4 linked regions of the Homo sapiens genome follow. The protein of the gene in region 2 interacts with the protein of the main gene of each other region in a biochemical or structural test. Each region holds a gene or a part of one and is shown on either strand. Other genes may lie near its edges.

Region 1 (3,500 bases), on a different chromosome or scaffold from region 2:
GGAGGTGGAGCTGGCAGTGAGCTGAGATCACACCACTGCAGTCCAGCCTGGGTGGCAGAGCGAGACTCCGTCTCAAAAAAAAAAAAAAAAAAACAACAACCAGCCAGGCCAAAATGGTGAAACCCTGTCTCTACTAAAAATATTTAAAAACTGGCCAGGTGTGGTGGCTCACGCCTGTAATCCCAGCACTTTGGGAGGCCGAGGCCGGTGGATTACAAGGTCAGGAGATGGAGACCATCCTGGCTAACACGGTGAAACCCCATCTCTACTAAAAATACAAAAAATTAGCCAGGCGTGGTGGTGGGCGCCTGTAGTCCCAGCTACTCAGGAGGCTGAGGCAGAAGAATGGCGTGAACCCGGGAGGCAGAGGTTGCAGTGAGCCAAGATCGTGCCACTGCACTCCAGCCTGAGCGACAGAGCGAGACTCCATCTCAAAAAAAAAAAAAAAAAAAATTAAAAAATTAGCTGGGCGTGGTAGCCGGCGCCTGTAATTCCAGCTACTCAGGAGGCTGGAGCACAAGAATCGCTTGAAACCCGGAGGCAGAGGTTGTAGTGAGCTGAGATCATGCCATTGCACTCCAGCCTGGGCAACAAGAGCGAAACTCCATCTCAAAAACAAAACAAAACAAAACAAAACAAAAATTAAACTCTTGATGCAGGTACTGGTGACTTTCAGGCATGGTTGGAACAACTTGGGCATGTGAATCTGCTTTTTCAACTTCCCTGCTTTTTCTTATCTTTCCAGGAAAAATTTACCATCAGAGTTGAGAACTGTTGTAAGCATACAATAGACACTGGATTTTAAAGATACTTCAGTACAGAAAAAAAGGAAATATTTCCGAAGTCATGGAGGACTGGGAAAAAAACAAAAGGAATGTAAAATGTTTCATTAATGATATTTTCACATTGATAATATATGGAAAGGGTAATACTGTAGATATACTGGCTTAATTAAAACATATCATTAGGCCAGGTGTGGTGGCTCACATCTGTAATCCCAGCACTTTGGAAGGCTGAGGCGGGCGGATTACCTGAGGTCAGGAGTTCGAGACCAACCTGACCAACATGGTGAAACCCCAAGTCTACTAAAAATACAAAAGTTAGCTGGGCGTGGTGGTGGCACCCATAATCCCAGCTACTTGGGAAGCTGAGGCAGGAGAATCACTTGAACCTGGGAGGTGGAGGTTGCAGTGAGCTGAGATCACGCCACTGCAGTCCAGCCTGGGCGACAAGAGTGAGACTCTGTCTCAAAAAAAAAAAAACATAAAAAAAAGCCCCAAACATGTCATTAAAATGAATTTCATGAATGACACCTGTTTCTTTCATTTTCTCTTTTAATTACAAACTTTGGGTGTTTTTTTAGAGATGGGGTCTGGCTGTGTTGTCGAGGCTGGAGTTGAACTCCTGGGTTCAAGTGATCCTCCCACCTCAGCCTGTCTAGTAGCTGGGACTACAGGCGTGCGCCACCGTGCTTGGCTGTTTTTACTGTTTATGATGGAGCAAACAGAAAATTTAAAATTGCTTCTGTGGCTCAGGTTACATTTCTGCTAGTTACATTGCTGCTTTATAGCAGTGCCTGGTATAAAGTCCGATCACAAAAATATTTACGGGAAGAAAGTGCACATAAACACCACTTCCCCCAAGAGTGCTCTTGTTCTCCTCCTGTTGGGCTGGTGTCTGACCCTGTGTCACAGTGCCTGGCTTTGAATCCATGGCCGGCCTGGAGAGGGAGCTTTGGGAAGGCGGCACAGGGCCCTTCTGACCCCTGGGGCTGGCACATTATGGGGGCTCGGGGAATAGTGGGTGAGCCTGGCATGGTGGCTCATGCCTGTAATCCCTGTGCTTTGGGAGGCTGAAGTAGGAGATCACTTGAGGCCAGGAGTTCAAGACCAGCCTGGGCAACACAGCAAGACCCCCTGTCTAAAACAAAAAACAAACAAACAACAAAAAAAAATTAGCCAGGCATGGTAGTGTGCGCTTGTAGTCCCAGCTACTCAGGAGGATCTCTTGAGCTCAGGAGTTTGAGGCTACAGTGAGCTATGATCACGTCACTGCACTTTCCTGCTTGGGCAACAGAGCAGGATCCTGTCCCCCACAAAAAAACCAAGCGGCCAGGCGCGGTGGCTCACGCCTGTAATCCCAGCACTTTGGGAGGCTGAGGCAGGTGTATCACCTGAGGTCAGGAATTCGAAACCATCCTGGCCAACATGGCGAAAACCCATCTCTACTAAAAATACAAAAATTAGCTGGGTGTGGTGGCAGGCGCCTGTAATCCCAGCTACTCGGGAGGCTGAGGCAGGAGAATCGCTTGAACTAGGGAGGTGGAGGTTGCAGTGAGCCGAGATCACGCCACTGTACTCCAGCCTGAGCGACAGAGCGAGACTCTGAATCAAAAAAAAGCAAGTGAGTGAACGGGTGGATAGGGCACTCTAAGGAGTGGGCACAGTCCAGGCAAAGGCCTGACAGGCAGGCCCTGAGCGAGGACAGGCCACCTCACCTTCTGTTTGTCGAGGATCTTCATGGCATAGTGGTTCCCGGTCTCCTTGTGTTTCACCAGCATCACCCGCCCGAAGGAGCCCGTGCCGAGGGTCTTGATTCGTTCAAACTGATCCAAGTGGGCTGTGTTCTGTGGGCAGAGGGGTCGGTAGGCTCAGGGCACGCCCTCCCCGCGGCCTGCTTGGCTAAGGTCTGGGGCATCCCCTCTGCCACCGGCAGAGGGGGCCCCGGGGAGCACGTGGGGTCAGCGGGGTGAGGACAGGGGGCGGAAAATCAAGATGGCAGAGGGCACATTCCTTAAGGCGGGTGGCAGGGGCCAGATCCGGCCCTGGCCTGGGGCCTGGAAGCTGCTGGCAGCTGTGCTGGGGGCAGGGGCGGGCCGTTGGGAGGGGTGGTGGGATGGGGGTGCCTGGCATTGGGCAGTCAGGTGTCTCCACACAGGAGCCCCCATGGGCACCTAGGGAGCAAATGGGGAGGGTCTGAAGCCTTCTATGGGGTTTCTGAAATTCTAGCTGTGTTGCTGGGACACAGCCAGGGGCTGGGGGTTAGCAGCTCACCCCTCCCTGGGCTCTGCACCCGGCAGCCTTACCTGAGCGGGACTTTCCCATTTTTTAAGAAAATCTTCTTTGGCTTTGGCTAAGAATTCTTTCACTGAAAGGGAGAGAGGGGAGAGTTATACAGAGACGCCCGTCTCACCGGGGTGGGTTCAGGTGATTTCTGGGGAGATACTTGGTGGAAAGTGGGGTGCAGTTCCAACCCAGAGCCTGACCTTTTTCTGGTGCCTCTGGGGCCTTGGCTGGGCCGTGGCCTGGGCCTCCCTTGCTACAGAGAGGTGGGATCCAGCTGCCACTCCATCCAAAGTGGGGTACAGAGAGTCTCAGGGGTCACTCGCAGGGGAACGGAGGGAGGTGCCCAGGCAGACCAGCCCACCCCCACTCGCCCCAGTTCTGACCGACATTCCATGGCCAGGGCCGACGCCAGCCGAGGTATTTATAGCCTTGGGA
Region 2 (3,500 bases):
TTTCAGTACATATGTACACAAAGAAGGGAACAACAGCCACCAGGGCCTACTTGAGGGTAGAGGGTGGGAGGAGGATGAGAATCGAAAAAACTACCTATCAGGTATTATGCCTATTACCTGGGTGATGAAATTATCTGTACATCAAATCCCTATGACATGTAGTTTATCTACATAACAAACCTGAGTGTAACCCTGAACCTAATAGTTTAAAAATAAGAAAAAAAGTAATTGGGAGGTTGGGGTTAGGGCTCAGGAAACTTTTCTAATTCCTCAAGTGATTTTTTAATTTTTTTATTTTTTAGACGGAGTCTCACTCTGTCACCCAGGCTGGAGTGCAGTGGTTCAATCTTGGCTCACTGCAAGCTCTGCCTTCCCAGTTCACACCATTCTCCTGCCTCAGCCTCCTGAGTAGCTGGGACTACAGGCGCCTGCCACCACGCCTGGCTATTTTTTTTGTATTTTTAGTAGAGATGGGGTTTCACTGTGTTAGCTAGGATGGTCTCGATCTCCTGACCTCGTGATCTGCCTGCCTCGGCCTCACAAAGTGCTGGGATTACAGGCGTCAGCCACCACGCCTGGCCATTAATGACTCTTAAATAAATCAAATCTTAGGAAGCACTAAGCTATAGGATTTAAGGTCAAACTCCTGGAAACTTAATCTAAGGTTCTTTAATGATCTGGTCTCTGCTAATCTTTCTGGGTTCAAATTTCACTATTACCTGCATATGCAAACTTATTCTGCAGTTGTAAGGCACTACTTATAGTTCTCAAACACAGCTTATTGATTTTTCTTCCATGTTTCTAAGGTTTGCAAATGCTGTTCATTTTCCAAGACTGACATTCTCTCTTTTGTAAGCCTATGAATGTATTTTCCCAAATTCACTGTGAAGACTTATCTGAGCACAAAGTTACAGGGGTCTCTTTGCTTGGTTCCCATAGCATTGTGTGCATATCAAATCTAACATAATTTAGGTCTGTTTCCCTGCCACTAAATTGTGAGCCCTCTGCAAGTAAATACTGAATTACTTATCTCTGAATCTTGAATATATGCTAGAATAATTATTTCATGACAAAAGATTTTGGAATGAATGATCAAGAAGAAAAAAGGCAAAAAAACCCACTCAGAAATAATAAAGAATCATTAGTGATGCACTAATGTTCCTTGGGTTGAAGCCTTGATACTCTGACATTCTTCACCCTGATTACATTAACTGACCTTACAGACGAGTGGTTGTTTGATATATTAATTATATAACATTTACCACTCAAATGACTCAAAGATGTTTTTTATAACTCACGAAATTTGTAGTTTCTATTATAGCAGTCTTCCCTCCTTAAATTAAAAAAACAATGGTTAGAAGCACATACTTTCAACACTCAGTCTATATTCTTTGAATACACTTCCATGAAAAACAATCAAAACACTAGCAGCAACTTATCCAATTTATGTTTGGCATGTTGAATAATTTCACTTAGACTTTTGGCCAAACTCTTGGTTCTTCCTTAGTGATTAAGCAGATGAATGGCAGTTCAGGGCAACCTTCAATAATGTGGTATTTATGACAAAAAACAAAACAAAACTTTTTTTAAACGAAAGTTTATAATCAAATAAAATTTAATAAAAACATTGGTCTAATAGTTTCAGGGCCAAAATGATAGTAGTTCATGCATGTGTAACATTCAGCGAACAGCCTTGGTATACCACTAATAAGCTCTAAGGAGGAGCTCACCCTGCTGGCCCTGGGGCGTCTGTGAGATGATAAACTGCGCTGGCTGCAAATTGGTGGTTGGATGCACCAACACAAACTGTTGCAGGTTGAGATTCTGCTGTTGAAGCTGTTGCAGTTGTTGAAGATCCTGAAAAATTGGAATTAAAACATGGATTGGAGATTCTGAAATAAAAGTTCGCTTAATTATAAGGCTTCCAGCTGATGACTTCTGTCACATCCAAATAAAGAAGAGTAAATACTTCGCATGCTTTCATATTCCAAACAGGGTATGCTCTGTGTGTGCTTGACAAAGCACGTGAAGCAACCTGGAGCCTCTGCAACTGACTATTTTTGTGGACTGACATATATTGTTATGATAAGCCTAATTTTCAATGTTTCTTTAAAATTCCCTCAGAACAAATATACTTCTGTTTTTTATCATGTAAAGACCAATATGGGTTTTAAAAATCAAGTGAGAAAACAGTTTTTAAATATTTGATTGATCTTTCTCTTAAATAAAAATTGATCGTGTTATGTCTGAATTTCCATCAATAAAGGGCCTATAATGACTTATGACATTTGACAACAGCTTATCTAACTCAACTGAAAAATCAGTATTCAATTTTTTTGCCCTTTTCCACATGTTCTAAAGTATTCAATTTTTTAAAACCAAAAATAGCTATCCATATAAAAATTTAATCCCTAACAACAATAGCACCTTACATTGGCCTACTGTTTTATAATTTTCAAAGTGTTTTCATGAACGTTATCTTATTTAGACTAATGTTAATATAGGGTCTCACAGCTTAGGCACTAAAAACATTTATTTGGTGATGAGAAAGTGGCCAAAATCAAAACATTATCTTGATAAAGATTGTATAAAGACTAGTCTGATATTTATTCTCTACTCTTACAGTTAATTAGTTCTTTTTAAATGGTTAGTCAAACTCTTGCTACAAGTTAAGTCCATTTCTGAGTCTTTTCTGAGACGGATAAAGACAGCTGTCTAACAATTAGACTCATAATAACTCTTCATATATTTTACTGATATATCTACTTATACCTTTTTCCTCTTCTTGAGATTAAAGATTTTATTTATTTTCCTCCTTGGTACTATTGTGTATGCTTCTTAATTTTTTTTTTTTTTAGTGGCGCGATCTCGGCTCACTGCAAGCTCCACCTCCTGGGTTCACGCTATTCTCCTGCCTCAACCTCCCGCGTAGCTGGGATTACAGGCACCTGCCACCACACCTGGCTAATTTTTTGTATTTTTAGTAGAGATGGGGTTTCACCGTGTTAGCCAGTATGGTCTCGAACTCCTGACCTAGTGATCCGCCCGCCTCGGCCTCCCAAAGTGCTGGGATTACAGGCGTGAGCCACCGCGCCTGGCGCTTCTTAAATAAATTTTTATTATCTCTAGATACTTTGCCCTAAAATGTGAAAATTGAAACCAAACAACATTCTAATGCAATAATGTTAATCACTCCATAGCAGAGATGACTCACTGTCTCACACATGGGTGGCAACATTCACCGCAGAGCACATGAAAAAAAATCCATGTCTGCTGTAATTAGCTAATTAAAATAAATACAGTAATCCCCTGCTTCAAAAATATGCCAGCTAATTATTCAAGAATTGTCACTTAATATAAAGTCAGTTATTCAAATAATCAGCTATATGTTTACAATATCAACTACAATAAGCAAACAAACATTATTTCTAATTCAGTGGTAAGGAAGGGTACCGCTTACCTCACTGATCTAGAGCTCCTCAGGCAGTTAAGGCCCCACA
Region 3 (3,148 bases), 2.5 Mb from region 2:
ATCTGTTGGGAGTAACATCTATCACACTCCTGAGAGCCTACAACTGGGTATTATTTGTAACCTAGATTCCTTCCCCTGAAATATCTCTTGGGAACCACAATTTTTCTTATGACCAGATCACAGCAGACAAAGAGAAGAAAAGGAGAATCACTGGGCAAACAGCCATGACTTAGGAACTTAGAATTTATTATGGAAAATACTCCTGGCATTTCTCTGAACTGGTGCTTGGTGGATGGCTGCCAGTAGCAAGCAGACAAGATGGGGTGCTCTGTCCCTCTGTAATACAGCTATTGTTTACCCACAAATGATCCTTCCTTCCTTCCTTCTTATTTCCTGAGTGAAGAAGGTGGTCCATAAGGTCTCTGCCCCACCACCATAGTATGTAGACTTTTCAGTGATTAGGGCAACAGTTTAAACCATAATCTACACTAATGCAGGCCTAGTTTGGGGAAAGAGAAGTTGCCAGCATGTAAGAAAAGAAATGTGCACAAAATACAAGTATTTTTTTTTGCAACAAAAGAAACTATTTATTTGGAATATGCATTACCAGTACAAATTAGGAGACTGTAAAACCTACACCGTGTTAGTATCATTAGAGAACACAAAAGTTCAGTTGGAATCAAAAGGGACAGAAGCCTGTGCTCTCACAGAAGCAGAAAAGCTTAAACTTTCAAAACCAAAACAGAGCAGAGCTTTGCAGGTTTATATTCTGAATAATAAGAAAAGGGGAGGGGTAGGGGGAGAATAAAACCAACAACCAAAGGAAAGCATTTCAAATTGAAAATGCCAAAGGAAAGAAGTAATAAGAGAGAAAAGGAGAAAAACATTGAATGTTTTATTTATTTTAACAAAAGAAAAAAAAGTTTACAAAAAATAAAAGATTCCAGGAAGCTTTGAGCTAGGGATTGAAACCATAAAGGTGATGTGAAAAGCTCATCATTATTTTGTTGTGACTTCAAGAGTACAAGTGTTCAGGTAGAAATATTTCCTAAAGCATTGCTCCACAATTCTGCATTCTTTCTTTACTTTTCTTGCTTAAGTTCTGACCACTTTCTGAACATAATTTGTTGAATGATGGTATTTAAAATGAATTTTTTTCCAGATAATATGGCTTTCTTTTTTCCTCTAATAAAAACATTCCAAATCAAGCCAGTTTTGCAATTTGCTTTAAGCAGCTGCCTAAGTCAGAGGTTACTAAGAGGTGTACTCTGTGAAGTAAACGTAACCTCTTAGCATTAAAACTACAGCATTGAGCCTGGCCCAATATCTCATTAACTCTTCATCCAAAACCAGGACTCAGCTGGCAGACTGGCCCCAAGGACTTCTTCCTGCATGTAGTTTACTTAACCAATGGTGCCCATCATACCAGCATCTCCTGCGGGACTCTCCTGGAAGAAAAGGCCTCTTTGGTTGGAAGAGGCCTCATGGAATGTAGTTATTAATTAGGGAGAAATAAAACAAAGTACTTGGCTGTGATAATCAGAATCAAAAACAGCAAAAACCTTTCCTGATAGCATAAAAAGTTCCCTTGGACTAAACGTTTTTGAATTTTTAAAAGGCTAAAAGGAGAAGTATGTCCCTGATTTTATTTTTCTCAGGGACTGCATGAGTGTCACACTCTCTGGAAATGCAGGTGAGCAACGAGACATCAACATGGGCTTGATCTTCGCTTTTGGCATTAACTGAATTCTGAAGCAAAGTAGAAGAACAAGCCTACTTGTTCTTACTCCTCTGCCCAAGTCATCTTTTCACATCACCTTGTATACATATTGAAGAAAAACAGCAAGATCATAATCCTGACAATTAAAAAAAGCCCCCCAATAAACAAACCAAAAATAACACAAAACAAAACATTTTTTTTTTTGTATTTTTAAGAGCAAGAATCAAGAAAAGAAAAGAATTTATTTCTGGGTCTCAAAGTTAATAAACATAATAATGTGTTAGGTTGTACCTATTATGCTCACTATTCCAACCTTTTTTTTTTTTTTTTTAGTTTACAAAATGAATTACTGTCACTTTTAAACATTGTGAAACAAGAAATGGATGTGCACAACTCGACACTTTTCTAGCATTCTTGAACTAATTCACAAATGCAAGAAAATAAAAGAAAAATGAGGGAAATGATGAATGTAGGTAGTCTGGTGTTAAAAACTAATGCAGGAATGATGCGCATTGTCACAGAAAGAAGAGGGGAAATTCCCCATCCTGTTTTGCGTGCTATGAGGGTCATTTTTAAAATTTTTATTATAAACACTATTAAATTCAGACCGCTTTTTTGGTTTTTTTTTTCTTTATCTGAATATACAAGAACATTCATTATCAAATGTTCATCATCAATACTACAAAGAACGAGACACAAGTCGCAAGAAACAATGGAAAATGTTAATAAAGCTGAAAGAATCGTTGAGTATTTTTTTGTTTCTTTTAAAGTTTTTTTTAAATTTGAGTTTCTGTAGTTTCATCTTTTTTGGTATCGAAGTCAGGTTTTTCTGGGCAGAAAAACAAAGAGCAGGAAAGAGAGAGACAGAGAGAAAGATGTGTGAGAAAAGACAACCAGCAAATAAAGAATCACCACCATAGCAAAATAAAACATAAATTGAAAGAAGGTGCCACTTGGCAAATGTACTGCACGGGCGTCAATTCCATGCCAGAGGGAGGATGGATTAGGGATGAAAAGGAGGAGATAAGGAAGAGTTACAAGGTGGGCAAACCCAGGGTCTAGTATCGTTTCTCAGGGGAAATTCGCTGTCGGGGAAAATGGAGCACTCCCACATCTATTAGAAAATGAAGAAATCCTGGGGTGCATCTTGCTCTCTGTAGGACTGGCCTCATGTGAATTCCCAGGAAGCTGTGTTTCCAGAGGCATGCTCTTTCCAAACCCATCCTGCTGCTCTCAGTGTTCTCCTGCTTCGCCTAATGTGGACAGATCTCACGGATGCCACGTTGGAAGTCGGAAGTGATAGTGGGCTTGCCGGGGGTGCCGGGGGAGGTGCTGGGTATAGAGAAGACTAAGTGAAATGCTGGTTGGGGAAAATGCTGTGAAAGGTGATCATCAGTGAAAACTACGGCCCGGAGAGAAACTGCCTGTGCAAATGTAGCCCTGTTCTGATCTTTTGCATTAACTTAACATGGCAATTATTCAGGCCAC
Region 4 (3,527 bases), on a different chromosome or scaffold from region 2:
TTTTTTGAGACGGGAGCCTTGCTCTGTCGCCCAGGCTGGAGTGCAATGGCGCAATCTCGGCTCACTGCAACCTCCGCCTCCTGGGTTCAAGTGATTCTCCTGCCTCAGCCTCCCGAGTAGCTGGGATTACAGGCGCCTGCCACCATGCCTGGCTAATTTTTGTATTTTTTAGTAGAGATGAGGTTTCACCATGTTGGTCAGGCTGGTCTCGAACTCCTGACCTCAGGTGATCTGCCCTCCTCTGCCTCGGCCTCCCAAAGTGATGGGATTACAGGCGTGAGCCACCCGCACCCCGGCCCAACTTGAAGATTTAATTGTTAGCTTTCTGCTCTAAAATCATGTTACACCTTTCCTTCTACAACCAGAGGGGTTAAAAATTTAGTAACACTAGAAAAGATGGCATATTGAAAACTTGTTTCTTTGCTAAGAACAGTTATTTCTGAGGATATTAGAAAGAAAACAGTATTAACAGAGATGAGAAAAGGAAAGCCTTATGAAAGTCTGTGCCACTTCTAATTTTAATTCCAGAAAAAAATGCCTAGACTGTAAAGTTTGACATAAAAATAGTAATCAACATAAGTTAATAAAAATTGCTTAGCAGATACCTAATAATCATTAGGAAACAATATCCAAATATGAAGAAAACCATAATTCAGAAATAACTTTTACTTCTCAGTATCCTGGAGATACAACTTGTGTAGACCTAGTTACCAACCTCTGTATATCTGTAACAGTAAAAAATTTCAAACAGCCAAATGTCCCCAGAAGAGGACTGGTTAAACTGTATCTGTACAATGGCAGCAGTTTATAAACCACTGTTTGTACCTACCTTTTGTGTAAAAAAAGGGAGAGGGAGGAGGAGAGAACATACATTATATTTGTGTATATATGCACAGACTGTCACAAAAAACATAACACAAAAAACTTCTTACAGTTTGCCCTTTTCCATGTTTCTTTTTTTTAGAAGTGTACATATTACATAAAGTAAGTTTGAAAACAATGAGGACATTATAAAGCAAAAACTTATAGGCGAAAATATTATAAGGGCCTAGTACCCAGAATATATAAGGAACTCAGAACCCAACAACAAAATTTCAATGAACAAAGGACCTCAACAGACATTTCTTCAAAGAAGATACGCAGATGGCCAAAGACAACAAAAGATGCTCCACATCATTAGTAATCAGGGAAATGCAAATCAAAACCACAATGAGAGACCACACCCATGAGGATGGCTATAATTTTTAAAATGGCAAAATAAGTGTTGGTGAAGGTGTGGAGAAATTGGAACCCTCATACATCAATGGTGGAAGGTAAAACGGTACAGCTGCTGAGGGAAAGTTTGACAGTTCCTCAAAAAGTTAAATGTGCGATTTCAACATGACCCAGCAACTCCACTCCCAGGCATATACCCCAAATAATTGAAAACACGGACTCAAATACTTGTACACGAACATTCATAACAGCACTATGAACATTAGCCAAACAGTAGAAACAACTCAACTGGATGAATCGATAAACTTGTGGTATATATCTACAATGGCATACTTACTATAAAAAGTATACTTAGCTATAAAAAGGAATGAAGTAGTGATAACATGTTACAATGGATCAACCTCAACAACACATTAAAGCTAGACGAAAGAAGTAATACACAGTGTATGAGTCTCACATGAAATACCCGGATGTAAATCCAAAGAAACAGGAAGCAGATTGGTGGTTGCCAGGGACAAGGGCGGTGGGAGGAGAAAATGGAGAGTAACGGGACTTTACTTTTGGAGTGATGAGAATGTTTTGGAGCTAGATAGAAGTGGTGGTTGTACACCATTGTGGATGTACTACCACTTAATTGTTCACTTAAAAAGTTAATTTATGTGAATTGCATCTTAATTAAAAACAAGGATAACATTCCAACTCCTGGACATTATCCTTCCTTTCCATTTGATGTCAGGCCCGTGTTAGAATTCTCATCCGGTTTGGTCACTGCACTTAAGAAAGATGTGGAGAAATTAGGACGCACAGTTAAGAAGAAGGATAACACTGATTAAGGTAGTGCTTTTCTAGGTTTCCCCTAAACAATTTAACAGATGGATAGTGGCACCACTTACGAGATGGAAAAACCAGCGGAAGGAAGATTTGGGGGAGAAGTTAAGTTTGTCTTGGGCCTGTGTTTTGCAACCTGAGTGTAAAAGACATATGTTAAGTCTTCAGTGGCGAAACACTAAAACTAGAAATGGATCAGAATTTTATCTTTGGATGTGACTTCTCAAGGATGGTCTTGTCACTTCAGTGCCTGGTCAAATGACAAGATGGGCAATCTTTTCCTGAAGGTCCAAGCACCTGAACGTGGCAGGGTGACCCGATTCCGATTTGCTTAGAACAATCCTAGTTCATGCCTATTGTCCCTCATGTAATTAATATCACTCTCAAAATGTCTCATTTTGTGCAATAAATTCTGTAATCGTTGTTGCAGAAAATAAATGAAATTCATTAAGCCTTCCAATACAATGGCAGGTATAGCAGGCTTGAACACATCTTGGCAGTGAAGAAACATACAAATAATGCAGCTGCTTATTTTCAGATGTCTCGTCTCAGAACTTATTTCAGAAGTTAATAGTATAGGAGATAACTTTTTTATTCTTACAGCTTAAGCAAAGATTAACCATATCCCCTCCCCTTTCCTTCCAATTTATATGATCACAGAGTTTTAGAATTGCAAGGGGACCTGAGAAGGTATATAGTCTTATTGTCCTTTCAGTGAACACGTGTTTTATGACATCAGACACAGCTGGTCGTATGTCTCCATTAGTCATCTTGACAGTAACATCTCCAAATCCACAAATAGGCACTGTTCAATCTTATTGAAAAACAGGTTTTGTCCTGAAAATTAGGGATCCAGTAACTGAAGACATGTTGTTGTCTGAATTAGTTTTGCTGCCTTCCAACACAAGCTTGTAATATATTGTAACTTTAAGTCCAATAAAACATGGCTTCACACTACTAGCAAAAAAAACCCAACAAAATATAGAGATCCCATCCCCAAAAAAGAGACTTACAGAGTTTTTAAAAGCATGTTTATGTGACTGCACATAAATGTTTGTGTAAAAAGAGCATTATGACAGTTGATACCACAAAGATTACAGTAAGAAAAAGCACTTTATGACAATATTTCACAAATTCACAAGGATCACTTTAATATACAAAGCAACTGCTACTATTCTGAACACAAAGCAGCTATTATGTACATAGTGTTAATAAAATGCATTGTAACTCAGTACATTTTTTTCTTTACACATAAAGCACAAAAAGATTTAGATAAAAAAATTAAAACAGGGATGTTTCTAGAATGTAGGGAATTTTATTAGAAATGTATTTCCCTCATTATAGTTATTTATTTAGTATTCAACTCCAATAGAAACATCAGAGTTAAAAATCAATACCCTGTTTTGTGCTGACAGTTGTGGGGGAAGTCTTCTTTACCCCAACCCTCAAAAACCAAAAAGCCAAACACCTTTCTAGGAACTTCC

The links. Proteins that work in one complex are often made in the same cells at the same time.
Region 1: of the proteins of POU2F1 (region 2) and PRKACA, one has a biochemical effect on the other in vitro, tested with the Homo sapiens proteins (one study listed by BioGRID).
Region 3: the proteins of POU2F1 (region 2) and PBX1 form a complex in vitro, tested with the Homo sapiens proteins (one study listed by BioGRID).
Region 4: the proteins of POU2F1 (region 2) and CREB1 form a complex in vitro, tested with the Homo sapiens proteins (one study listed by BioGRID).

The regions. Positions count from the first base shown.
Region 1 is NC_000019.10:14,104,263-14,107,762, forward strand, and holds part of PRKACA (cAMP-dependent protein kinase catalytic subunit alpha), read right to left. Parts: coding exon of another isoform or gene 3,449-3,500; intron 3,148-3,448; coding exon 3,086-3,147; intron 2,627-3,085; coding exon 2,498-2,626; intron 1-2,497.
Region 2 is NC_000001.11:167,374,386-167,377,885, reverse strand, and holds part of POU2F1 (POU domain, class 2, transcription factor 1), read right to left. Parts: intron 1,858-3,500; coding exon 1,731-1,857; intron 1-1,730. UniProt on the Homo sapiens protein: Transcription factor that binds to the octamer motif (5'-ATTTGCAT-3') and activates the promoters of the genes for some small nuclear RNAs (snRNA) and of genes such as those for histone H2B and immunoglobulins.
Region 3 is NC_000001.11:164,849,184-164,852,331, reverse strand, and holds the end of PBX1 (pre-B-cell leukemia transcription factor 1), read right to left. Parts: 3' UTR 2,993-3,148; coding exon of another isoform or gene 2,930-2,992; 3' UTR 501-2,929; downstream 1-500. UniProt on the Homo sapiens protein: Transcription factor which binds the DNA sequence 5'-TGATTGAT-3' as part of a heterodimer with HOX proteins such as HOXA1, HOXA5, HOXB7 and HOXB8. Binds to the DNA sequence 5'-TGATTGAC-3' in complex with a nuclear factor which is not a class I HOX protein.
Region 4 is NC_000002.12:207,602,962-207,606,488, reverse strand, and holds the end of CREB1 (cyclic AMP-responsive element-binding protein 1), read right to left. Parts: 3' UTR 501-3,527; downstream 1-500.